Homo sapiens: one gene and its partners. The protein of the gene in region 4 interacts with the protein of the main gene of each other region in a pairwise test. Each region holds a gene or a part of one and is shown on either strand. Other genes may lie near its edges.

Evidence for each region.
Region 1: the proteins of RERE (region 4) and EFEMP1 interact in a two-hybrid assay, tested with the Homo sapiens proteins (one large-scale study listed by BioGRID and IntAct).
Region 2: the proteins of RERE (region 4) and TRIM22 interact in a two-hybrid assay, tested with the Homo sapiens proteins (one large-scale study listed by BioGRID and IntAct).
Region 3: the proteins of RERE (region 4) and ALG13 interact in a two-hybrid assay, tested with the Homo sapiens proteins (one large-scale study listed by BioGRID and IntAct).
Region 5: the proteins of RERE (region 4) and PRRC2B interact in a two-hybrid assay, tested with the Homo sapiens proteins (one large-scale study listed by BioGRID and IntAct).

What each region holds. Positions count from the first base shown.
Region 1 is NC_000002.12:55,913,783-55,917,302, forward strand, and holds part of EFEMP1 (EGF-containing fibulin-like extracellular matrix protein 1 precursor), read right to left. Parts: intron 1-3,520. UniProt on the Homo sapiens protein: Binds EGFR, the EGF receptor, inducing EGFR autophosphorylation and the activation of downstream signaling pathways. May play a role in cell adhesion and migration. May function as a negative regulator of chondrocyte differentiation.
Region 2 is NC_000011.10:5,692,775-5,696,294, reverse strand, and holds part of TRIM22 (E3 ubiquitin-protein ligase TRIM22), read right to left. Parts: intron 129-3,520; 5' UTR 63-128; coding exon 1-62. UniProt on the Homo sapiens protein: Interferon-induced E3 ubiquitin ligase that plays important roles in innate and adaptive immunity.
Region 3 is NC_000023.11:111,754,155-111,757,664, forward strand, and holds part of ALG13 (UDP-N-acetylglucosamine transferase subunit ALG13), read left to right. Parts: intron 1-3,433; coding exon 3,434-3,510. UniProt on the Homo sapiens protein: Catalytic subunit of the UDP-N-acetylglucosamine transferase complex that operates in the biosynthetic pathway of dolichol-linked oligosaccharides, the glycan precursors employed in protein asparagine (N)-glycosylation.
Region 4 is NC_000001.11:8,352,631-8,356,150, reverse strand, and holds part of RERE (arginine-glutamic acid dipeptide repeats protein), read left to right. Parts: coding exon 1-51; intron 52-551; coding exon 552-732; intron 733-1,030; coding exon 1,031-1,064; 3' UTR 1,065-3,520. UniProt on the Homo sapiens protein: Plays a role as a transcriptional repressor during development. May play a role in the control of cell survival. Overexpression of RERE recruits BAX to the nucleus particularly to POD and triggers caspase-3 activation, leading to cell death.
Region 5 is NC_000009.12:131,397,084-131,400,603, forward strand, and holds part of PRRC2B (protein PRRC2B), read left to right. Parts: intron 1-3,520.

The DNA of each region.
Region 1 (3,520 bases), on a different chromosome or scaffold from region 4:
GCACATCATCTGAGGTCAGGAGCTCGAGACCAGCCTGGCCAACATGGTGAAACCCCATCTCTACTAAAAATACAAAAATTAGCAGGGTGTGGTGGTGCACGCCTGTAGTCACAGCTACTCGGGAGGCTGAGGCACAAGAATTGCTTAAACCCAGAAGGTGGAAGTTGCAGTGAGCCAAGATAGCACCTCTGCACTCCAGCCTGGGTGACAGCGTGAGACTCTGTCTCAAAAAAAAAGGAGAAAGAGACTATGCAATAAAGGTGTAGAAAACTAAAGTGAGCCATCAACAGATTATAATATATTCCCCATTCATTCAACTTCTTTTTGGTGTAGATGAGTATCTGTTGTCTTTGAGGCAGATGATATCTAATGGAAACAATTAATTTCGAAAACTCTATCTATACATGGCCCCAGGTATGTAACACTGAAATGATCTTCATTTTATAGATGCCAAGAATAATGTCAGTCATGGGAAACTCCCAGCGTTACTGGCTCCCACAGCATGATCCTCATTTAGCAAAAAATTACCTGAAAAAAACCTGCTCACTGTGACCTGATCTTTGAATGTTATGTTGTATTTCAAACTCCTTGTTTTTGTACAAAACTGAAAACACCCCCAAAAATACATGAAGGGGAATAAACATATCATGTTTTCATTAAACAGTTAAATGGACAGCTATTTAAAGGATATATTTATAAAATAGTGTACATTTAAAATATCTAGTGGTATTATTTAAATTATTTAGAAGCCATCTGTGACTGGTATAGTGCATTCAAAGGCACAATTGATTTGAAGACTGAAACACAGTACAGATTTCAGTTCTTACATTTAAAATGTCCTGAGTTTTAGGTTATATAATGATAAACTATACCTGCTAAAAAATATACATAGAAAAAAGAAATAATTTTTATGCAAATAAGACTCATCTGTAAGATTCATTTATTCTATCCAGTAGACCATAGGAAATGTGTCTGGATTACTGGGCATAAATATGCAACATTTAAAAGGGAGTGGAGATCTTTATTAAAACAGAAGACTCTTCAAACTCCATGATGATGTCAATAATATAGGTCCTTAGAGCACATTATTGTTCTAAACAGAGGTCCCCATACTTCCACATTGGTTATAAAATATTATTTTGTGCTGCTGGCCTGGAATGAGAATGTCATACATCTGCAGGCAATTAGAAGAAGCTGGACTGCATGTTTGATTAGCTCAATAAGAAATGGGCACAAGTGTGACTCGACTTATGTTAGTCAAATTCCCTAGACAGATTATCCTGTTGTTATCATATGAAATAACCCCCTTTTATCAACAATTAAGTAAATCCACATTTATGGGCACTTTGCAAAATTGTGAGGTGGGAAGAAATCCAACTTAAGCCCTAAGCCTTCCAAAAAACTTTTAACCCTGCTTTCAATGGTATAGACACCAATCCCAAATTTTAGAAACTGGCTGAATTACACAGATCAATTTGGGTTGGAAATAACCTGTGTGCACACAGTCAACAGGTATGTATTTAGCATATTCCATAAGCAAGGCACTTAATAGTCTGCTTATAACTAAAAAAAATTCCCAAAGAAGAAAGAACTATAAATGTTTTACTATGTGAAACGTAACTTACTTTGTTAGGTAGTCTAAATATTTTCTAGAAAAGTTAAATAGGATTTTATTTTCATTAATCACAGTACAGTTTCTACCGTAACCAATACATGTTGTAAGTCTTGAATATATTTTATTCTAGGACCTCTTCATTTAGTTCTGGGCATTGTTCTTGAATTCAACCATAAATGTCAATGACGGTCTACAAACTACTTTGGGAAATGACTCATTCATTTATCTGGTTTTTTTTTCTCCCAAGTACCATTAAAGTACACATCTAAAGTATTCAAAATAATTCAGTATATAAAAGTTGATACTTAAGAATTTTTCAGCAAAATTTTTTGATTTTGGGAAAAATACTACCAAACTTTCCAGTCTAGTTATATAACTAAATAACACAATTAAAAGTTGGTCTATCTTAAATAAACTCAAGATTTTTTTTATCAGTATTAACCCAAATACATGTATAAGAATAACCTCATCATTTTATCTCCTTGACATAATCCTTAAATTCAATATCAGAATATCAAGCAGATGCTGAAGCATTCATCATCAATACTGGAATTCTGACTCATGACAGTAACACGAAACAGATGCTAATACGATGCACCCTCTGAAAAGTGACACCATCACAACATGGGTTAGGTCTTGATGTGGGGTACTTAAAGCTTACAAACAAAATATGAAATAAATAAGAGTCAGAGCATGACAAGTTTCCTTCATTTTTTTTTTTTTTTTTTTTGAGACAGAGTCTCACTCTGTTGCCCAGGCTGGAGTGCAGTAGCATGATCTCGGCTCACTGCAACCTTCACCTCCCAGGTTCAAGCAATTCTCCTGCTTCAGCCTCTCTAGTATTTGAGACTACAGGCATGTGCCACCATTCATAGAGAATTTTTGTATTTTTAGTAGAGATGGGGTTTCGCCATGTTGGCCAGGCTGGTCTTGAACTCCCGACCTCAGGTGATCCACCCGCCTCATCTTCCCAAAGTGCTGGGATTACAGGCGTGAGCCACCGTGCCCAGCCCCTTGCTTCATTTTTAAGCCATTTAAACTCGAGTATCTTTTACACAGAAGATAAAACTAAACACGGGTGAATAAGGGGCAGCATCCCAGGGCACAAGAAAATGCATCTTTCATTTAATGTAGCAGCTCAGTGGTCTCTATTGAAACCCTTGGTGTTAAGGGAGGAAGGTGCTCTCTTCCTTACACATGACCAGTTAGAAAGTAAGAACTCCTGGACCCTTTCCATTGGCCCACGTGTGCCATACACGTATGTGGTGGTGACATGGAGTTCTGCACTATGGGATCTACCTAATCAGCCTCTGGCAGGGAGAAAGGAGTCTGGAGGCTCCTATGGCCCCATTTCAGTAACACAGTCTCCACACCAGGCTGCTCTGAAATGGTTTGCCAAGAAGAAAGGGAAACAATCTCATAGCACAGTTCAGTTAGCTAATATCCTACATGTCTTCAAAGCCCCAGATTCTTATCACTTTGCTAATACGAGCCTACAGCTGTTTCTAGAATACACAGTGATGTGTATGCTCTGTGAAAATAAACAGAAAACCCTAGGCAGATGATGCCATGGTGCAAGTGATATAAGTGAAACGTCGTCAAATGAGAGCTTAAAAGAGATATAAACGTGAGTGGGGGAGAATCCCTCCAAGGTAATGAGAAGCAGGAGCCCCATTTCTTTACTCCTGAATGAGGAAAATAAGTCTGTGGCAAGTTCGATGAAAAGAAACTTGAGAAACCAAAGGGGTACATCTGTAGAGTAGCTTGACAGCATAATTTCAAATTCCCAGTGAATAACCTGATGGTGACTTTTGCCAGCTGTGACTTTGGCACCCGCCTTCCTGGGTTGGAAGGTCAGCTCTGCACTTAGCACCTGTGTGACCTCTGGTTCTCAAACTTGGCCGC
Region 2 (3,520 bases), on a different chromosome or scaffold from region 4:
AGCTCCAGGCAGATGGGGCAGGTCACCTCCTTCTCTATGTCTACCTTTACTGAGAAATCCATTGCACTGCTCCCTTGGCTTCCTTCTGTCTTGACTCTTGAAGTTCTTGGTCACAAACTCCTGCAGTGCTGAGAATGTTGAAGGGGACAGGGTAAGAAAAGAAGGAATAGAAAGAATACTGCTTTTACAGAGATTTAGAACAGGACAAAACATTAATATTTAACAGAGAAAGGAGAAAAGAAAGGCATGAAGAATAAACCAATGACAGAATAAAATGGACTTTGTAGTAATTTCAAACACTTTATTCTTAATTTTTGTCTCAGGACAAATTTCACCCCATCAAGGCAATTATTGTTATTTTCTCTTCTACTGGAGAGGACAAACTGAGGCTCTTCTACCAAGAGCTTCGTGTAACCCATCATTTGTCCTGCCTTTTGTTCCCCAACCCAAAACACATTTTCCATGTTAAATGCACTAAACACACCCCTGCCCCTGGGCTTGCACACAGGCTTTTCTCTCTGAATGGCATGATTGTATCCCCAATATTTGCATGATTCATGAATATTTGCATATTTTTAAGCTATTGAATTGTATTTACATAGCATCAAACACTGCATCAAACATCATTTTTAAGTGTATCATGCAATAATTTCTAGTAAATCTGTGGAACTATATAACTATTACTGTAACCCAATTTAAAATTATTTTTATCACCTGAAAAAAAAAAACCCTAATGCCATCACTCCTATTCTGATCCCAAGCTCCAGGCAACCACTACTAATATCCTTTGGGTTTTTAATCAGTTGATAAAAATAGAATCATAATATATGTCTTTGGTGTCTGAATTATTTTACTTATACTGTTAAGGTTTATCTCCTCTGACTTTTTTCCCCATGTAAAAAATACCTCCTCAATTAAACTATCAAATCTATGGCTCCTCAAGGCTTTTGCACTTGCTCCTCTCTCTGCATAAAATGATCCTCCCCCTGATGTTAGCAAGACTCACTCTTACATTTAATTCAGTCTCCTCTTAGAAGTCCTCTTCTTAGAAGGACATACTATAATTTACTTATAGCAAAACCACCAGTACTGTCACTCACTGCACATTTAGCTTCTTATTTTTACTATGTAATATATAAGATTGTTCTTTAAATGTCTACTTCTTCCTCCTGAAAAGTAATCCATTCATAGACCTGGGACTTTTTTTGTTCACTGATATGTCCTCTATACCTAGAAAAGTGAATCACATACAGGAATAAAACATTTAACGAATATATAAAGCCACAACTTCCTTATCCCTCCATAGATGATTAGACCTTTTAATCAGATTTTCATCTTTTCTTTCCATCAATTAGCAGTTTCCCAATAGCTGACCTTTGGGACCACAATTATGGTTTCCAGTGAAGAAGTGTTTACATCCTAACACATCTACCCATAGCAAGTCCTCCCATGACCTCACACTCCATCCCCAAAGACATACACACACACCCACACACCACCACCACCAACACCATAATAGGAAAATAATTTTATCATGAACAATTTTATAAGCAGTTACAATTTAGAAATCATTTTGACTTCTTTATTCTTCATACAAAACCCTTGAGAAATAAGAATACTCCCTTTCTTCAGGTGTGTCAATAGAATCAAGTGACTTACAAAGATCACTCATTCTAATCTAATAGGTAGAGTAAGAGTGAATGTATTGTCCCCAAGGTCCTCCTTCAGAGTTCTCTCCACTGCAGCACAGATTTATACAGACAACAAAGGTAAAGGCTACAAGAGCTATACTGATACCCAGTGCTATTGGGGGTATAGAAATGGAGAGATCCAGACCAGCTATGTAGTTCTGGGGCATGCTGTGGTTTTAAATGTTGAAATTTCACCTTGGCCTGGACATATGGCAAGGATGGTGATAGGAACCTAAAGATGTATATATTTTGGGAAGAGGAAAAGAGGCTAAAATAGTTATAGGATCACACACATGATATAGACTCAATATACATTTCAAAGAAACATCTGTTGGTCATGGGAGAAAAGTCTCAATCCATAAAGGAGGCCAAGTACATTGAGAATATGTAGCAGAGAGATAAAGTCTGTCCTGTTTCTCCCCAAATGATGTTGAAATCCTAATGTGTGAATGTGCTCTTATTTGAAACTAGTATATTTAAATACTATTTAGTTACCATGTGCTCATTAGGGTAGACCCTTATCCAACATGACTGTGTCCTTATCAAAAAGGGACATTTATACACAAGGAATATGCCAGGGTGAAGAAGAAAGCAGAGATCAGGGTGATGCACCTATAAGCCAAGGAATGCTAAAGGTTTCCAGGAAACTATTAGAAGCTAGAAGAGAGGCATGGACCAGAGGCCTCCTTCATAGCCTTCAGAAGGAACCAGCCCTGTCAACACATTTTATCTTGGATAACTAGCCTCCAGAATTGTAAGGCAATATATTTCTGCTATTTAAGCCAACCACTTTTGGTACTTTTTCTATGACAGCTCTAGAAAACTAATACAAGTGCTTATTTTTCTTGATTTATTCATTCTTTTTTTTTTTTTTTTTTTTTTGAGACGGAGTCTCACTCTGTCACCCAGGCTGGAGTGCAGTGGTGCGATCTCGGCTCCTTGCCAGCTCCGCCTCTCGGGTTCACGCCATTCTCCTGCCTCAGCCTCCAAGTAGCTGGGACTACAGGCGCCCGCCACCACACCCGGGTGATTTTTTGGTGTCTTTTTAGTAGAGACGGGGTTTCACTGTGTTAGCCAGGATGGTCTCGATCTCCGGACCTCATGATCTGCCCGCCTCGGCCTCCCAAAGTGCTGGGATTACTGGCGTGAGCCACCGCGCCCGGCCTATTCATTCTTTATTCTAACATTGAAGAAATGTAGCCCCATTGAAACCCTTCCGACCTAAGACAGGTAGACAGACAGACACATAAACAAAATGCATGCTCCCCTTTGAAGGTGGTGCGAATGTAGAAGTTTCTATGACACGGTGAAGGCTAACTAGGTCCGTAGCTTCCTTGTTTCAGAATACTCTGATTACCTGCACAGAAGCTTTCTTTATCTGTGCAATTTAAATCAAAAAAAAAAAAAAAAAAAAGATGGCCAGGCGCTGTGGCTCAAGCCTGTAATCCCAGCAGTTTGGGGGGCCGAGGCGGGCAGATTACCTGAGGTCAGGAGTTTGAGGCCAGCCTGGCCACTATGGTGAGACCCCGTATCTACTAAAAAATATATATATATACAAACATTAGCCAGGTGTGACAGCAGTTGCTTGTAGTCCCCGCTACTCTGGAGGCTGAGGCAGGAGAATCACTTGAACCCAGGAGGCGGAGGTTGCAGTGAGCTGAGATCACACCACTGCACTCCAGCCTGGCAACAGAGCAAGACTCCGTCAAAAGAAAAAAAAAAAAAAAGATTAAATTAAATTAGTGTGGCTACACAATAAGGAGAAAAATTATAAGGGGTTTAGCCATCAATATCTTTTTTTTTTTTTTTTGAGACAAGGTCTCACTGCG
Region 3 (3,510 bases), on a different chromosome or scaffold from region 4:
AGAACCAATGACAAAAACCACATGATTATCTCAATAGATGCAGAAAAGGCCTTCTATAAAATTCAGCACCCCTTCATGCTAAAAACTCTCTATAAACTAGGTATTGATGGAATGTATCTCAAATTAATAAGAGCTATTTATGACAAACCCACAGCCAATATCATACTGAATGGGCAAAAGCTGGAAGCATTCCCTTTGAAAACCGGTACAAGACAAGGATGTCCTCTCTCACCACTCCTATTCAGCATAGTATAGGAAGTTCTGGCCAGGGCAGTCAGGTAAGAGAAAGAAAGAAAGAAAGGGTATACGAATAGGAAGACAGGAAGTCACTTTGTCTTTGTTTGCAGATGACATAACTGTATATTTTAAAAACCCCATTGTCTCAGCCCAAAAGCTCCTTAAGCTGATAAGCAACTTCAGCAAAGTTGAAGTTGTGTGCAACACAAAATCAGTGTGCAAAAATCACAAGCATGTCTATACACCAATAATAGCCAAACCATGAGTGAATTCCCATTCACAATTGCTACAAAGAGAATAAAATACCTAGGAATCCAACTTACAAGGGATGTGAAGGACCTCTTCAAGGAGAACTACAAATCACTGCTCAATGATATAAGAGAGGACACAAAGGGAAAAACGTTCCATGCTTATGGATAGGAAAAATCAATATCATGAAAATGGCCATACTGCCCAAAGTAATTTATAGATTCAATGTTATTCCCATCAAGCTACCATTGACTTCCTTCACAGAATTAGAAAAAACTACTTTAAATTTCATATGGAACCAAAAAAGAGTCCATATAGCCAAGACAATCCCAAGCAAAAAGAACAAAGCTGGAGGCATCGTGCTATCTGACTTCAAACTATTTTACAAGGCCACAGTAACCAAAACAGCATGGTACTGGTACCAAAACAGGTATATAGACCAATAGGACCAATAGAACAGAACAGAGGACTCAGAAATAACACCACACATCTACAACCATCTGATCTTTGGCAAACCTGACAAAAACAAGGAATGGGGAAAGGATTCCCTATTTAATAAATGGTGCTGGGAAAACTGGCTAGCCATATGCAGAAAACTGAAACTGGACCCATTCCTTACATCTTATACAAAAATTAACTCAAGATGGATTAAAGACTTAAATGTAAGACCTAAAACCATAAAAACCCTAGAAGAAAACCTAGGCATTACCATTCAGGACATAGACATGGGCAAAAACTTCATGACTAAAACACCAAAAGCAATGGCAACAAAAGCAAAACTAAAATTGACAAGTGGGATCTAATTAAACTAAAGAGCTTCTGCACAGAAAAAGAACCTATCAGTGTGAACAGGCAACCTACAGAATGGGAGAAAAGTTTTGCAATCTATCCATCTGACAAAGGGCTAATATCCAGAATCTACAAGGAACTTAAATTTACAAGAAATAAACAACCCCATCAAAAAGTGGGCAAAGAATATGAACAGACACTTTTCAAAAGAAGACATTTATGTGGCCAACAAACAGGAAGAACTCATCACTGGTCATTAGAGAAATGCAAATCAAAAGCACAATGAGATACCATCTCATGCCAGTTAGAATGGCAATCATTAAAAAGTCAGGAAACAACAGATGCTGGAGAGGATGTGGAGAAATAGGAACACTTTTACACTGTTGGTTGGAGTGTAAATTAGTTCAACCATTGTGGAAGACAGTGTGGTAATTCCTCAAGGATCTAGAATGAGGAATACAATTTGATTTAGCAATCCCATTACTGGGTATATACCCAAAGGATTATAAATCATTTTATAAAGACACATGCACATGTATGTTTACTGCAGCACTATTCACAATGCCAAAGACTTGGAACCAACTCACATACCCATCAATGATAGACTGCATAAAGAAAATGTGGCACATACACACCATGGAATACTATGCAGCCATAAAAAAGAATGAGTTCATGTCCTTTGTAGGGACATGGATGAAGCTGGCAACCATTCTCAGCAAACTATCACAAGGACAGAAAACCAAACACCGCATGTTCTCACTCATAAGTGGGAGTTGAACAGTGAGAACATACGGGCACAGGGAGGTGAACATCACACATTGGGGCCTGTCGCGGGGTTGGGGGCAAAGGGAGGGAGAGCATTAGGACAAATACCTAATGTAGGTGACAGATTGATGGGTGTAGAAAACCACCATGGCACATGTATACCCATGTAACAAACCTGCATGTTCTGCATGTGTATCCCAAAACTTGTGTAATAAATATAAAAATAAAAATAGCTGCATTTTTAAAGCACTCATGTGTTCATAGATGCTTGCTCAACACTGTTTTTTCACCACTCCCCTGAGTTGTAGAGGCAGGTGGGTACTGACAAATGTCTTTATCAGTGAAAGGTGTCTCCGAGTTGAGGTGAGAGCTCTTTTATTTTAGTCTTTCAGGGATCACTTTCCCTCTGAAATACACTTGACTTAAAATGTAACAAGATGGCATATTTACTGAAAGGAATAATGCATCTTAAGATCTGTCAGATGATGATAAACTCTGTGCTCTCCTGGATAATGCTCAGATTAGTTCATATTCCCTGACACTGATTTCCCTGAAGCTTTAGACATGTCAGTGCCAAGAAAACTGTCTTCCCAAATAGTACACATCTATAAATTAAGAGTAATGGGGTGGGTTTTTGTTCTTTGAGACTATTTTTCCTAAATTTAGTTTCAAGAATTGATAAACCGCTTGCCCCTTCTGTTATGTTAGTTTATTATAGTCACATGTGGAAACTTTGTAATCTATTTCACTGAGGCATTTAAAAATATTCTGCCTTTTACATCATAGAATACCAGGAGATGCTGAATAGATATTTCAGTATTTTTCTTATTAGAAATCATAGTGTCCATTGTAGTACATTTTGAAAATACTGTGGTATAAAGAAAACTAAAATCACCTCTATGATCACTGTATACTTTATATATTTTCTTACAATTTTGTATTTTACAAACTATGGATTATGCTGTATAATTTTTAAATCTTTTAACAATACAAGCATTTTTTCTTTAAATATTTGACAGCATGATTTTCGTTGCCTGTATAGTATTTCATTACGGGTATATAATTTATCCAGTTCCCTGTTGTTAAATACTATGTGCAATGTTTTTTGCTTTTAAAAATACTATAAAAGACACCTTTGTATACAGGTCTTTTAGATTATTTCCTAAAAGAATTCTTAGGTTTAAATATGAGATACAAATGCTGCAAAAGATCCTAAAGTTCTAATAGAGAACAGACTGTCAAGTTTTTAGGTCAAAAAAGTCATTGCTACCTCACCTGAAAATCGTGGCCCAATTCTTATTTTTTTTTTTTTTTTGTCTGTGGGGAACTGTATTACATTAAGAATAGAGAAGAGTGAAGTTTCTTATTTTTTTGTTGCCCTTTCTTGCTCAAGTGCTATTACCACAGCTACTGGCACTCCATGGTCTATGTGCCACAGATGCAGCAGCAGCTTCATGTAGAGAATTATCC
Region 4 (3,520 bases):
TGCTTGGACAGCCCCCACACGAGCACGAGATGCTTCGCCACCCAGTTTTCGGTAAGACTTCCCCTCCAGGAGGGGCGGGGAGGCCGTGTGAGGGTTGGGTTGGGGTCTGGTCTGCTGTCTTCATTCATTACTCATTCATTCATTCATGCATTGAGCAGGTGGGTTCGCTCCCCCTGCATGCAGGGGGTCCGTGGGGGAACAAGCCTCCTGCCCTCTGGGGGCTGTCTGGGGTAGGGGTCATAAATGCATCAGCCTTGCTAAGAGCCGGTGAAAGTAGCAGAGGGGACTCACGGCAGGTCTCTGAAGGAGAAGCACTTGGGCTGAGGCCTTGGAGGAGGGGCCAGGCAGGTCCAGGCAGAGGCACCCAAGGGCACCTCCTGCCTCCCCAGAGGCTCTGCCCTCTGGCTGTCTGCAGAGTCTGGGAGGGGCTGGCTCCTGTGTCCGAACTGGCACCTCTCCTGTGCTCTTTGCCGTTTGCTGTGCCTGTGCCGCCCTGGTCTTGGCCAGTCCTCTGGCTATTTCTGTAGCGCAGGTTGTTTTGTGTTCGGCAGGCACCCCCTACCCCCGTGACCTGCCTGGGGCCATCCCACCCCCCATGTCAGCAGCCCACCAGCTGCAGGCCATGCATGCCCAGTCGGCCGAGCTGCAGAGACTGGCCATGGAGCAGCAGTGGCTGCATGGACACCCCCACATGCATGGTGGCCACCTACCAAGTCAGGAAGATTATTACAGGTGAGGTGGGGTGCTGGGAGGGAGTGGAGGGGTTATCTGAGCCCAGGCTCCCAACCTCCCCGTGTGCCCAGGGCCAGGCTCCTCCCCCTCTGCCTGCTGGGCCCTGGAGGGGACATTGTGGAACCATGGTGATGGGAGAAACAGAGGAAGGGAGGTGTTGGGAGGGTAGGTCAGCTACACAGGAGGCTGCGGGCTTGGGGTTGGATTGCCTGGCTGTTGTCTTTGGGGTTGCCTCCAGCCTGCGTGACTGCCTGCCTAGGCCTGAGACTAAATACGCTTTCCTGTTTTGTCTTTCCAGTCGACTGAAGAAAGAAGGTGACAAGCAGTTATAAGTTATTTATTTGTTAACGCTGGCTGTGGAAACCCCAGTTCTTGGGGGGAGAAACAGGACTTTTTACATAAAATAGGAGCTGCAAAAGCAAAAAGAATATCTTCTAAAGATTTCTTTATATATTTAAAAACCCACAACTAAAAATGTATCCACATAGTAGTGTTCGTTTGTCGAGAGGATTTCCTGAGACTGGTTTGGATCTCCCTGCATGACAGTCCCCCAGAAACTTAGTGAGTCCTGGACTGGACTGAACATCCAGAAAGCTTCCCTGCAATCTTGGGGTTTGGCTTTAGTTTTCTTTTCCTTGATTTCTCAGTAGGTGCTAGAATCCAGTTCACACCCTTCACTGTGCGTGCAGACACACTGACACACTCCGCCACGAGTGCTCCAGAGCCCACGAGGCTTGCAGATCGGGGGCATAGGAATTTGGAATCCAAGAGCTATAATTTTTAAAAAAAAAAATCTTTTATTTTAATACATTGTAGGAAATCTTCATAATTGGAGAAAGTTCTGCAGCATGGCTTTTTACGTCTGTAAATAAATAATTTTAGAACAGCCTTTTTTTCTTCCATAAACTACTATTGTGATCTATTTTTTCCAGCCATGTCACTAATTGTGAATTCCTACCAACTATTGACAGAATACAGAGTTGATTTTTTAATAAAAAGTTATATATAATTATCCCTTTAATTAAAGGGAGCAAAGGGGCGTTCCACATGGACAGAGGCTTGGACCGAGGCCTGGTCACAGCAGCGAGCATCCAGGGTTTGCAGGGACGATGTTACAGACTCTGTTTTCTGCCTGGCGTTTCACTTGTGTCTGCTCCTAGCCTGTGCTCTGCCAGCAGCACAGACATCTGCTCCATCAGACCTCTTCCATTTTGCACAGGGAGTGCAGGAGGTGAATGTTCACTTTCTGTTCTCCAGTGTCACTGTTCTGTTTCCACGGGATGGAAAGCGCATGGGCCTGTGTCCATTGTAGATTTCCTTCTAGATTTCTGTGTACACACACTTGATTGTTCTGGATGAATGTCTTTTTTAATACTCCGAAAATTTCATCATCTAAGAAAATGATTCCATACAAATAACTCAGCACACAAGTGACCCAGGACATATGCCTGCCAAAGGGATGTGTTAGAAGGCTGCCTTCTCATGCGCATTGTCACTTGGATCTTGTGGTGAGGACGGCCCCATCTTTCTTGCCACAGATTGAGGCCACTTTTGAGCAAGGGAGATCCTGGAGTTAAGACAGGTGTTGGGGGCAGCCTGTATTTTACCCTAGGGGCAGGTCTGCATGGTGACCCCACATTGCACTGGTAAACCATTTGAGTCCCACTCTTCATCCTGGAAGTGGGAACTGGAGTCCCACCCACAGTGCATTCAGAAAGCATGCTGTGTGGGGGCTGCTTCTCAGGAGGCCAGGCCCTTCTGAGCGGAACCGTCCTGGAGAGAGCCTGCCCTCGTTTCCAGGCTGCAGCCGTAACGCACTTTCTCCCAGGCTGAGGGCGGGTGTTCTGGGGTGTCTGCCCTCTGTCGGCCCTGCTTCCTGCCAGGACGTGGCCTCTTCCGATCCTTTTCTCTCAGACACTGGAGGTCTCTTCTGCCATTGTGCTGGTCCCATCCCAAGAATTGTAGGACAGAGACCACACTGGGTCGGCGGACACAAAGTCCATCCAGGACCCAGGCCGCAGAGGGAGCAGGAAGAGATGCTGATAGTTTGATCTAGAAACCAGCAGCTACTGGCTCAAATTCAGGTTCTGGCGTCAAATAGCGACATTTCCAGTTTCTCTTAAAAACCGTGTTTGGTTTCAGTTGGGATAGGCTTGTTTTGTCTGTTGAAAATGTTTCTAGTTTTTTTTCTTTCATTTTTCTCTCATTCCATTTCTGCCTTAACTTTAGTTTGTTCACAGGGAGGCAAAGCTGACATGAACCTTTTGTCGTGGGACTTCAGGCCACATTGGCTTGAAGGCATTCGTTTCCTTCTGGGGTGGGGACAGGCCCTCATGGCAGGCTTGTTCCCGTGGCTCTGAGCGAGGCCTCTTCCTGCTGGGCTCCCAGACTCCTGCATCCAGGCCCCCACCTTCTCGGCTTCTGGTTTTTCTTTCTTTTTGGTAGAACACAACATCTACCATTCAGTTAAACCTTCTTTATCTCCTCCTTTGGCATCCATTTTTCCAAAGAAGAGTCGAGTCCTCTGAGGTCTGTGCTTGAAAGCCGTCCGAAGGCATTCTTGTTAGCTTTGCTTTTCTCCCCATATCCCAAGGCGAAGCGCTGAGATTCTTCCATCTAAAAAACCCTCGACCCGAAACCCTCACCAGATAAACTACAGTTTGTTTAGGAGGCCCTGACCTTCATGGTGTCTTTGAAGCCCAACCACTCGGTTTCCTTCGGATTTTCCTCCCTTTGTTCGGGGTTTGGTTTGGCTCCTCTGTGTGTGTCCGTATCTTGTTCGGTGTCC
Region 5 (3,520 bases), on a different chromosome or scaffold from region 4:
TTTTCCTCGCTTCCTGCCTCTTGGCCCTTCCTTTTTGTCTGACTTCACTCGGGCCCAGTCTGGCTCTATACTGTTAACTGGTTAGTTAGGCCAGGAGATAGTCGCTGCCTCTCCCATGAGCTTCTGCATACCTGTGAATTTTGGTTATCTGTGGCCCCCTAATGCTGATTGCATGCCCTTGCCTTAGGCCCTAAGCCCACTGTGTGGGCGTCCCATCTCGTACAGTGGCCGTCTCCAGCCTCCACTGGGCCCAAATAGGTAAAAAGAAAGCCTGGGGAAGGAAGAGCCAGGAAACCTCGGGAGAGTGGAATTTCAGGAATGGCAGGTCAGAACTGGTTCCAGCATGGGTCCCTTTGCCTTGTGCTTAGCTGAGGGATTTTTGTTATTAATTTTTTTTTTCCTGTTCAACACTCCTAACCTCTTTTGAATTTCAGTTCTCTTTTTTTATCCTGAAGGATTATTTTATTGTACTTTTGAGGGTTTTTTTTTTTTTTTTTTTTTGCCTTGCACAAAGTACTGACTCATGTTGCTAATGGCTGTGGCTGTATGCTAGTTATATGTCTCATTATCCTACCCCTTAAGATTGATCATTTCTGTGTTGGTTTCTATTTCAAACCAGAATAGGCCAGGTGGGTCAATTCATGTATTTCTGAATTCAATAATGAGGCTTCCCTACCGTGAAATGTACATATCTTGTCATGGGCGGACAGGTACTAAATAGAGCCTATCTATACTAGATTTTAAAACAATGGATTTCTCCCCAAAAAACAACATTTCCAGCAGACAATGGGCTTTGTGCTCCAAATCTTGTAATTTTGGTTTTAAATAAATTTCATGTAAGGAGGCAGGGCTAACTAGACTGTCTTCTTTTCAGATCATAACTTGATCTCTTTTTAAGATTATTTCTGGGACTTGTACAGCCTCAGGAAACTTGGGTCTGTCATTGGGACAAAGAAATACAGGCACTGGCTGTGGTGTTGGAGATGGGAGCGACATGGGATATGGTGAGCTTTGTTTCTGGTGAAATAGAATTGTTTGTCATTAGCTTTAGGTTTAAAAGGTGCCATTCAGACTGGACCTCCTCACCTGGGAGCTGGCAGACCTGGGCCTTGCCATTGGCGATATTACTGTTTATACCTCTGGGTGGCACGTGGGAAATCTCTTTTGTGCTGGGAGGTAGGTTTGTCTTAGTGTCTTGAGCCAGAAGTTGTGGTTGAGCTTTGTTCTCAGCTGTACTTGTTGGTTTTCTGTGTGACCTGAGAAGCATCCTTCGTCCGAGCTGAAGTGCACCTCCGAGGTGCTGGCAGCAGCACTGATTTGTGAAGCATTGCGTGCAGCAGGAGTAGCTGGCAGAACAAAGCCTATCTCAAGTTGCTGGCGGTCTTTCACATCTTGTACAGGACTTCCTTCCGTTCTTACCTCTGCAGCCAGTTGTGTGGCTTCCGTCTGGACCGTCTTCCTCCTTTCCAAGATAACCATCAGTCTTTTTCTCTGTGGGGCTGCAGCAGCAGTATTTATTGCATTTTTAATTGACTTGTCAGGCAATAGATACTCCTTGAGCACCTATCATTTGCCAGGCATTGTACAAGGCCCTTTAAATACATTTTTCTTGTGGTAGGGCAAGGTGGCTCATGCCTGTAATCCCAGTACTTGGGGAGGCCAAGGCAGGTGGATTGCTTGAGGCCAGGTTAAGACCAGCCTGGGCAATGTGATGAAAATAAAAAAATGCCTCTTAAAAGAAAAAATTAGTAGGGTATAGTGGCGCATGCCTGTAGTTCTAACTACTTGGGAGGCTGAAGCAGGAGGATCACTTGAGCTTGGGAGGTTGAGGTTGCAGTGAGCCGTGATCATGCCACTGCACTCTAGCCTGGGCGACAGAGTGAGACCCTGTCTCAAAAGAATAAAAAGTAGGTCGGGCACGGTGGCTCACGCCTGTAATCCAAGCACTTTGGCAGGCCGAGGTGGGCGGATCACCTGAGGTCAGGAATTCAAGACCAGCCTGGCCAACATGGTGAAACCCCGTCTCTGCTAAAAATACAAAAATTAGCTGGATGCCGTGGCGAGTGCCTGTAGTCCCAGCTACTCAGGAGGGGTGAGGCTGGAGAATCACTTAAACCTGGGAGGTGGAGGTTGCAGTGAGCCGAGATTGTGCCACTGCATTCCAGCCTGGGAGACAGAGTGAAATTCTGTCTCAAAAAAAAAAAAAAAAAAAAAGTCTGGGCACGGTGGCTCACACCTATAATCCCAGCATTTTGGGAGGCTGAGGTGGGCGGATCACGAGGTCAGGAGATCGAGACCATCCTGGCTAACACGATGAAACCCCGTGTCTACTAAAAATACAAAAAATTAGCCGGGCGTGGTGGCGGGCGCCTGTAGTCCCAGATACTCAGGAGGCTGAGGCAGGAGAATGGCATGAACCCGGGAGGCGGAGTTTGCAGTGAGCCGAGATCACGACACTGCACTCTAGCCTGGGCCACAGAGCGAGACTCCATCTGAAAAAAAAGGAAAATACTGAAAAGAATAAATGCCAAAATAAATATATAAATCACTTGTGACCTCACCATCCAGAGCTAACTGCAGTAAAGTTGCTGGTGTGTTTCTTTCCTCTGATAATGTCTGTGTTTTCTAAATTAGAGCAATAGTATATATACATTGAATACACAGTTGATAGCTTGCTTTTCCCCTTTTAATGTTATAGTGTATTCCTCTACGTTATTTTTATAATTATATAATTGCTATTATACGGATATGCCATAATTTATTGACTCCTGTATTCGTAGACATTTAGATTATTGTTGCCCTCTTTTCCCTCCTATAAGAGAAACTGTAGGGAGCATCTCGGCATGTTAAGTCTTGGTCCACGTGGCTGATTATCTCCCATAAGTGGAATTTCTGGGGTCAGAGGATTGCAGGTTTGTTCTTCTCTTCTGGACAGGATCGGTTGTCTCCTTCAGTCTTTGTCACCTCCCTCTCCAGCCTTGAGCCCAAGGCAGTCTCTTTCTTAGTTTTTTCTTTTTTGAGGCAGGGTCTCACTTTGTCGCCCAGTCTGGAGTGCAGTGATGTGATCTCAGCTCACCGTAACCTCTGCATCCTGGGCTCAAATGATCCTTCTGCCTTAGCCTCCCAAGTAGCTGGGATCCTATAGGCATGCGCCACCATGCCTGACTAAGTTTTGTATTTTTTTGTGGAGACGGGGTTTCGCCATTTTGCCCAGGCTGTTTGTTTTTCTTTTCTTTTCTTTCTTTTTTTTTTTGAGATGGCATCTTGTTCTGTTGCGCAGGCTGGAGTGCAGCCGTGCGATCTTGGCTCACTGCAACCTCCACTTCCTGGGTTCAAGCAATTCTCGTGCCTCAGCCTTCGAGTAGCTGGGATTACAGGCGTGCACCACCACACCTGGCTACTTTTTGTATTTTTAGTAGAGACGGGGTTTTGCCATGTTGGCCAGGCTGGTCTCGAAATCCTGACCTCAGGTGATCCACCTGCCTTGGCCTCCCAAAGTGCTGGGATGACAGGTGTGAGC